Regions from separate parts of the Homo sapiens genome. Here regions 2 and 3 are each linked to region 1. The links come from fine-mapping of genetic effects on gene expression. A gene starts in region 1. Each other region holds a variant in brackets. All regions are shown on one strand. Distances are between the middles of the regions.

Region 1 (2,762 bases):
TGGTTAAGTTACATATTAAAAGCTAAAAAAAAAAAGCCAGTGCCCTTATACAAAGGATGGAATGTAACAAAAGCCCACCAAGAGTTTTGCCTAGGCCTTTCCTTGGCCTTAAAGCATGACAAAATAACGAAAGAATTCCTAACAGGACCCATTTAGGATTAAACAAATTTTATTGGGGGTCTGAAGTAACTCCCCAAACCTCCGTGATTTAGTAGGAGGCAAGATAAGGATAATCACCCCAGCACCTATTGCCATTTAGATTAAGTAAATTTACTGAGGCTTCAAAGGAAAGTCTTCAGGACTCAAACCTTAGTTATAGACTAAAGTGAGTTAATCAATTATTATTATTATTATTTTTTTTTTTTTGAGACGGAGCCTCCCTCGCCCAGGCTGGAGTGCAGTGCCGGGATCTCGGCTCACTGCAAGCTCCGCCTTCCGGGTTCACGCCATTCTCCTGCCTCAGCCTCCCTAGTAGCTGGGACTACAGGCGCCTGTCACTGCGCCCAGCTAATTTTTTGTATTTTTAGTAGAGATGGGGTTTCACCGTGGTCTCGATCTCCTGACCTCGTGATCCGCCCGCCTTGGCCTCCCAAAGTGCTGGGATTACAGGCATGAGCCACCGCGCCCGGCGAGTTAATCACTTATGTCTTTAGATGAATGCACATTTACACGTAGACATATAGCTTAGAAGGTATATAAGCTCTGGAAAGCTTTGTAATTTTAAGTTGGTCTGGTGATAATTTCCAGGCCTTCTCCCTGTAACTGGTTGCAGAAATAAAAACTCGCTTCCTCTCCAGTTCATCTGCATCTCCTTACTGAACCAGGAGAAACAGCAGCCTGACGCTCAGTTTGGTCCAGGAACAGGTGGTGGAGGGCTCTCGAACTTTTTTCTTTTTTTTTTTTTTTTTTTGAGATGGAGTCTCGCTCTGTCGCCCAGGCTGGGGTGCAGTGGCGCGATCTCGGCTTACTGCAAGCTCCGCCTCCTGGGTTCACGCCATTCTCCTGCCTCAGCCTCATGAGTAGCTGGGACTACAGGCGCCCGCCACTACGCCCCGCTAACTTTTTTTGTATTTTTAGTAGAGATGGGGTTTCACCGTGTTAGCCAGGATGGTCTCGATCTCCTGACCTTGTGATCCGCCCGCCTCGGCCTCCCAAAGTGCTGGGATTACAGGCTGAGCCACAGCGCCCGGCTCTCTCGAACTTTTTTGGCAGATTTTTGCTGTTGATCAGCCCCGCTTCCCCAACTTTCCCCTGGGTCTCTCTCCCCCGGGAGTTTCTGGTTCCTCTGCGATTAATCACAGCCAAGTCTAGCTGGTTCTTCAGGACGGAGAATAAATAGGATAAACAGGAGCAGCCGAACCCTAACTTTGAGAGCTTTCTCCCCTCCTCTCCTAACTTCCCAGTCAGTGACTCGGAAGACTTTAACAGCAACAGCTGCCTCCTCTTGCCAGCTTGATCCCACCTGCTAAGTGAAGGAACAGCGTTTAAAGAGGTGGCAATCGGCAAGGGTGGATGCTTCCCTTTCCGCGCAGGCGCGTTCAGTCGCAGCACCGCGACTATCGTGATAGACAAGCGAGATCGACGCTGGCCCTTTAATAGCCCTTTCCCGGGGTCCTGCCCCGCGCGTGCGCACTGTGGTTCTGCGCTTGTCATCATGGCGACGCGGGGCCATGTGCAGGACCCTAACGACAGGCGCCTCCGGCCCATTTACGGTGAGTGTCTTGGACCAGCCCGCTCGCCAGCCCGACGCGCCGAGGGCTGCCGAGGCTGGGGCGAAAGCCCAGGAGGGGTGCTGAGGGCCGGCGCGCGGGCCGGGCAGGCGCAGGGGGGCGGGCCGCGCGGGCCACTAGGCCGCAGCCGCGGGCCTCGCGTAGGCGCCGGCCCAACCTTCCTCAGCCTTGGGGTGGTAGTGGCGCGGTCTGGGCAGCAGCTGGTCGGCAGAGCTGGCCTGCTTGGCAGGCCCCGTGGGACGCGTGGTTCTGCAGACACCTGCGCTACCCGCAGGCTGCATCGTTACCGCCGCTCCTAGGGAGACCGGAGATCTCCCCGAAGGTGGAAGCCGGCTCCGGCACGAGGGTGGGACGCCCTGCCTGAGGGAAGATTCCCTACCAGAGATTTTTTTTTATTTACGGGAATTGGGCCTAGAGGGTTGTCTGACTAGGTGGGCTTCGGTGCATAGGAGAAACTGAGGTCCGGAGTGGGGAAGGGGCTGACGCAAGGTCACCCAGATCGAGTCAGGAGCAGGCCCGAGATTCCAGGCTCCCAATCCAGAGCTGTTGGGTGGAGAAGCAGCTACTCTGGTCACACGTGGGAGGCGGGGGGAGGGGGTCTTGGGCCTAAAATAGCGGTGAAGAGATTGTGATAGCTCGTGTCAGAGGGGCATGCAGAGCTACTGGAGGGCTTCTCCTTTCTGCAGCTTCTCTGTGGTTTTCTCTGCAGCTTTCCTTCCCTGTGCTAAGCAGATCCCTCTCCACAACTCTTACCTCAACCCGCAGACTTGAAGACCTTGATGTCATCTCATCCATTTACCCTGGTAGTGAAAAATCACAGATTTTGAGTTTGGGAGAAACCCTTTTCCAATAACCGAAATGTGTAATTGGATTGGTCCTTTTTGCATTTCCTTTCCTCTTAGATGGTTTTATGGTCTTGGTCTATCTCACTTAATGGTGAGGAAGCTTCAAGGTCAGTGGTTTTTACAAAAGTAGACATCGTATTTATAGACCTCATGTGGATGTTACTAAATTGGAGGCTTCTCTCCAAGG
Region 2 (2,762 bases), 76 kb after region 1:
TTTGAATATTATAAATATGCTGCTATTGATACAGACAGATTCACAAAGATACATTTATAATATAATTTCTTTTCTTTTCTTTTTTTTTTTTTTTTTGAGACAGAGTCTCACTGTCGCCCAGGCTGGAGTGCAGTGGCGGCGGATCTCAGCTCACTGCAGCCGCCGCCTCCTGAGTTCAAGCGATTCTTCTCCCTCAGGCTTCCGAGTAGCTGGGACTACAGGCGTGTGCCACCACGCCCAGCTAATTTTGTTGTTGTTGTTGTTGTTGTTGTTGTTGTTTTTGAGACGGAGTCTCGCTCTGTTACCCAGGCTGGAGTCCAGTGGCGCGGTCTCGGCTCACTGCAACTTACGCCTCCCAGGTTCAAACAATTCTCCTGCCTCAGCCTCCGGAGTAGCTGGGATTACAGGCGCCTGCCACCATGCACGGCTAATTTTTGTATTTTTAGTAGAGATGGGATTTCACCATGTTGGCCAGGCTGGTCTTGAACTCCTGACCTCAAGTGATCCGCCTGCCTCAGCCTCCCAAAGTGCTGGGATTACAGGCGTGAGCCACTGCGCCTGGCCATATTTTTAGTAGAGATGGGGTTTTACCATGTTGGCCAGTCTGGTCTTGAACTCCTGACCTCAAGTGATCCACCCGCCTCAGCCTCCCAAAGTGCTGGCATTACAGGCATGAGCCACCACACCTGGCCTATAATATAGTTTCTTTAGGATAGCTCTTAGATCTGAAATTAACTGTATATATACATTTATACAGTTAATAAATGTATATGCATATATACATTTGTACTCATCCCCAACAGTGTTGAGTATGTATCTTTAACCATCTGGTAGGTGAATATTGGTATCTCCTTTTTCTAATACTGATTTTTAAAATTTTATTGATATTGAACTGTCCAAGAATACTTCTTGAGTGAAAAGCTAGCTTTATTAATTGATTGGCTAGGTTTTTTAGTTGTATCACATGTTTCTTGGATTTCTTTGATATGTCTTCTATTCTTTGTCCAAGTTTCTTATTGTGGTAGTAATATTTTTCCTATTTATATGTGTTGAGCTACTGGGTTCTTAACATAATAATGTTACTAATCCCCTGTCATAGGTGATGCAGTTTTTTTTTCAGTTTGTTATTTGTCTTTTAACTTGAGTGATTTTTTTTTTGTCAATGTAGTAATATTTTTAAAAACAAGGATAATCTTTTTAATGGTTTTTAGCTTTGTGTGATGTTTAGAAAGGGTTTTTCAGCTGTCAGTGTCATGATTGCAGAAGTTGTTACCTAATTTTCTTCCAGTGCTTTGATGGATTTTTTTTTATTTAAGTATTTAATCTATCGGAAATTTATTTTAATATTACTGTGTTATTTTGTATCTCCAAATGTCTAGCTGGTTATTTTAGTACCATTCATTCACTTGAAACCACTGGTTTGAAATGCCACTATTTAAATTCCCTCACATCTTTCAGTAGCTTTTGTGATGTAGATATGGGTAATATGTTTGATAATGTTTCAACTCTTTTTTAATCTTTTTCCCAGCCACCTGTCTTTACCAGTTTCCAAGACTATGTTACTGGGCTTCAGACTTTAATTTCCAATGTTGTGGATCATATTAAAGGGCTTGAAACACAT[C/A]TAATTGCACTTAAACTTGAAGAACTTATTTTAGAAGACACTTCTCTCTCACCGGTAAGAGATTGTAGGCAATCGGCAATGTTTTCTACACACACACAAACACTCTGTCTCTCTCTCTCATCTTTATCACAAGGACAAGTTAAAGTTCAATTTATCATTTCCTCTTTATAAGACTTGTGACTAGAAGGTGCTTGGCAGTAGTTTCTTGTTGTGTTGTTGGTGGTAGGTTTTTTCCCCTCTTCATTTCTCCCCATACGTCCTCCTTTCTATGCATTTTTGGGGTTGTTCTTTTACTATGAAAACTAATGCCAGCATTTTGAGCAACATGGAACCAGCCATATTTTGAAATCCAGGGACAATCTTCTTGAATAGAATTTACCTGCTGCTGAGTTAGCTGTCTTCCTTGCCACCCAGTTATCACCTGAGAAAGGAGAAATGCTGGACATGAGAAGTAATTATGTCAGTAATAATTAGGCTAGAGCAAGCCAACCAAAAAGGGAATGAAACCAAGTATGGAATCAAAGGTACCACCATCAAATGTCTTCTGATATTATTTTAGGTCTTTTCAAATTCTATTAGTTAGCAAAATCCTTATAAAGCCTTTGCCCTTAAAATGACGATTCTTTTTTGTAAATGTTAATTCACCGGCCTGGAGTAGGTTTAGGATTTTGGTAGGGGCAAGAAGGACAGTGGTGGAGTCGTCTGTTTCTAGCCTGTTGGTCCAGTGATGAAACTGATCTTAAGAAAATGCTTCCCTCCGGGAGTTTGTCTGAGCTAAACTGCTGAGCTAAACTGCTGATGAGGGAATTTATCCAGTAACCTGAGGGCAGCCATCATCATAGCCCCAGACCTTCATAGGGAAGGGAATGAATAGAATTTTCCTTAGCACACCAGCCTTAAGAGATTGTAAGCCCCTCTTTTGTAAAGCTTAAAAACGTTAGACTTTGAACAGAGTGCTTACTGTGGGAAAGGGCTCAGAGCAGTTCACATTACCAAAGATTGATTAAAAAAAGCAGACATGGGCTGGGCACAGTGGCTCACGCCTGTAATCCCAGCACTTTGGGAGGCGGAGGGAGGCAGATCACGAAGTCAGGAGATGGAGACCATCCTGGCTAACACGGTGAAACGCTGTCTCTACTAA
Region 3 (2,762 bases), 340 kb before region 1:
AAAGAAACCCAAGGAACGAATTTACCTATTCCCTATAAGAAATACGATGGGTGAAATAACCACATGTCAACCAACTCAACACAAAGGTCTTTATTAGTATCTTTACCTTGCATATCTTTTTTTTTTTTTTTTGAGATGGAGTTTCGCTCTTATTGCCCAGGCTGGAGTGCAATGACGTGATCTCGGTTCACCGCAACCTTCGCGGTGGATTTACATACATTATAAATCCAGGTTCAAGTGATTCTCCTACCTCAGCCTCCCAAGAAGCTGGGATTACAGGAATGCGCCACCACGCTCAGCTACTTTTGTATTTTTAGTAGAGATGAGGTTTCTCCATGTTGGTCAGGCTGGTCTGAAACTCCTAACCACAGGTGATCCACCCACCTCGGCCTCCCAAAGTGCTGAGATTACAGGCGTGAGCCACCACGCCCGGCCTACCTTGTATATCTTCTATTTTGAATGACTGGCCTATCGAATTGCATATATTAAGTGACAATAACTGTATAGCTACCAAAACACTTGTACAAAAATATTCATTGCCACTTTATTCATAATAGAAAAACATTTTGTTTTTTAATCATAAAAATGTATAAACAAATAGTGCTACATTACTATTCATACAATGGAATACTATGCATTATAAAAATTGTTGTGTTACTACTCATACAATGGAATACTATGCAGCAATTTTTTTGTTTGTTTGTTTGTTTTTGAGACAGAGTCTCACTCCATCACCCAGGCTGGAGTGCAGTGGTGCAATCTTGGCTCACTGCAAGCTCCACGTCCCGGGTTCACACCATTCTCCTGCCTCAACCTCCCAAGTAGCTGGGACTACAGGCGCCCGCCACGACGCCCAGCTAAATTTTTTTGTATTTTTAGTAGAGACGGGGTTTCACCATGTTAGCCAGGATGGTATTGGTCTCCTGACCTCATGATCCGCCGCCTGCCTTGGCCTCCCAAAGTGCTGGGATTACAGGCGTGAGCCACTGTGCCCGGCCACTATGCAGCAATTAAGAAAAAAAAAAAAGTGATGGCCAGGCATGGTGGCTCACGTCTGTAATCCCAGCACTTTGGGAGGCTGAGGTGG[G/A]AGGATCACCTGAGGTCAGCAGACCGATACCAGCCTGGCCAACATGGTGAAACCCCGTCCCTACTAAAAATACAAAAATTAGCTGGGCGTGGTGGCAGGCACCTGTAATCTCACCTACTGGGGAGGCTGAGGCAGGAGAATCGCTTGAACCCGGGAGGCGGAAGTTGCAGTCGGCCGAGATCTCACCACTGCACTCCAGCCTGGGCAACAAGAGTGAAACTCCCACTCAAAAAAAATAAAAATAAAAATAAAAAGACACATGTAATTTTAAAGACACATGTAATGACACAGTTTCCAATACGAGGTAGTGTTATCCCAAAGCACAAAACAATATATGCAAAAGGTTACTATATTCATTGAGGCATTATATATCATTTTAAAATATTAGACACAACTAAATCGCTACCTGCTGGTGACAGTATATAGAAGTTATAAAATATTCACATGATAGAATGCGATCCAGCTGATTAAAAAGATGAGAGAGATCACTAAAAGATTTAGGTAACTGAAAAAAATTACAGAGAAATATATTTAATGTTCTACTTGATGTGTAAAAATAAAAGGAAAATAGTAATAAAAATATTAATTTGCTTATTTTTATAAAAAGAAACATAGGGCCAGGCATGGTGGCTCATGCCTATAATCCCAGCACTTTGGGAGGCTGAGACAGGCAGATCCCTTGAGGCCAAGAGTTGGAGATTAGCCTGGACAACATGGTGAAACCCCATCTCTACTAAAAATACACAAATTAGCTGGGTGTGGTAGTGTACACCAGGCGCTGTAATCCCAACTACTTAGGTGGCTGAGTCATGAAAATCACTTGAACCCAGGAGGTGGAGGTTGCGGTGAGCCAAGATCACACCACTGCACTCCAGTCTGGGCAACAGAGCAAGATTGTCTCAAAAAAAAAAAAGAAAAAAAGAAAAAGAATGAAAGAAACACAGAAGGGTAAACAAGAAATTAATAGAAATGGCTACCTACAGAATGGAGATAGTGTGCAAGGGAGTAGGAGTAAGAATGAGATTTCTCAGGCCAGGCGCGATAGCTCATGCCTGTAACCCCAGCACTTTGGGAAGCCAAGGCAGATGGATCACTTTAAGTCAGGAGTTCAGGACCAGCCTGGCCAACATGGTAAAACCTAGTCTCTACAAAAAATACAAAAATTAACTTGGCATGGTGGTACATGTCTGTAATCCCAGCTACTCAGGAGGCTGAGGCAGGAGAACTGCTTGAACTCAGGAGGCAGAGGTTGCAGTGAGCCAAGATTGTGGCCACTGCACTCCAGCCTGGGAAAAAGAGCAAGACTTTGTCTCAAAAAAAAAAAAAAAAAAAGGCCAGGCATGGTAGCTCATGCCTGTAATTCCAGCACTTTGGGAGGCCAAGGCAGGCAGATCACCTGAGGTCAGGAGTTTGAGACCAGCCTGGTCGACATGGTGAAACCCCATCTCTACTAAAAATACAAAAATTAGCTGGGCATGGTGGCATGCACCTGTAATCCCAGCCACTCCGGAGGCTGAGACAGGAGAATAGCTTGAACCCAGGAGGCTGAGGTTGCAGTGAGCTGAGATCACGCCATTGCACTTCAGCCTGGGCAATAAGACTGAAACTCCATCTCAAAAAAAAAAAATAGATCGTTATCAATCAGCATGGAGCTCAAAAAAAAATTTTTAAGTTG

Evidence for each region. PIP is the estimated chance that this variant, and not a neighbour inherited with it, causes the effect. A credible set is the group of variants that fine-mapping cannot tell apart.
Region 2: its variant is the best candidate, but not a certain one, in a credible set for the expression of NAA25 in whole blood (TOPMed, PIP 0.59).
Region 3: its variant is the best candidate, but not a certain one, in a credible set for the expression of NAA25 in nucleus accumbens (GTEx, PIP 0.68).

The regions. Positions count from the first base shown.
Region 1 is chr12:112,107,666-112,110,427 of GRCh38, reverse strand. NAA25 (N-alpha-acetyltransferase 25, NatB auxiliary subunit) reads left to right here and starts at 1,645. Exons shown (of 24, transcript NM_024953.4): 1 at 1,645-1,712. The coding sequence starts at 1,655. RefSeq lists silencers at 1,696-1,775, 1,796-1,875.
Region 2 is chr12:112,032,146-112,034,907 of GRCh38, reverse strand. NAA25 (N-alpha-acetyltransferase 25, NatB auxiliary subunit) reads left to right here. Exons shown (of 24, transcript NM_024953.4): 23 at 1,529-1,675. Among named protein-coding and RNA genes, the nearest start is that of MIR3657, 4.2 kb to the left of the region's middle. RefSeq lists an enhancer at 1,204-1,705. The variant C/A (reference allele first, on the strand shown) is at 1,622.
Region 3 is chr12:112,447,457-112,450,218 of GRCh38, reverse strand. The region is part of intron 2 of PTPN11 (protein tyrosine phosphatase non-receptor type 11); the gene reads right to left. Among named protein-coding and RNA genes, the nearest start is that of PTPN11, 30 kb to the right of the region's middle. The variant G/A (reference allele first, on the strand shown) is at 1,088.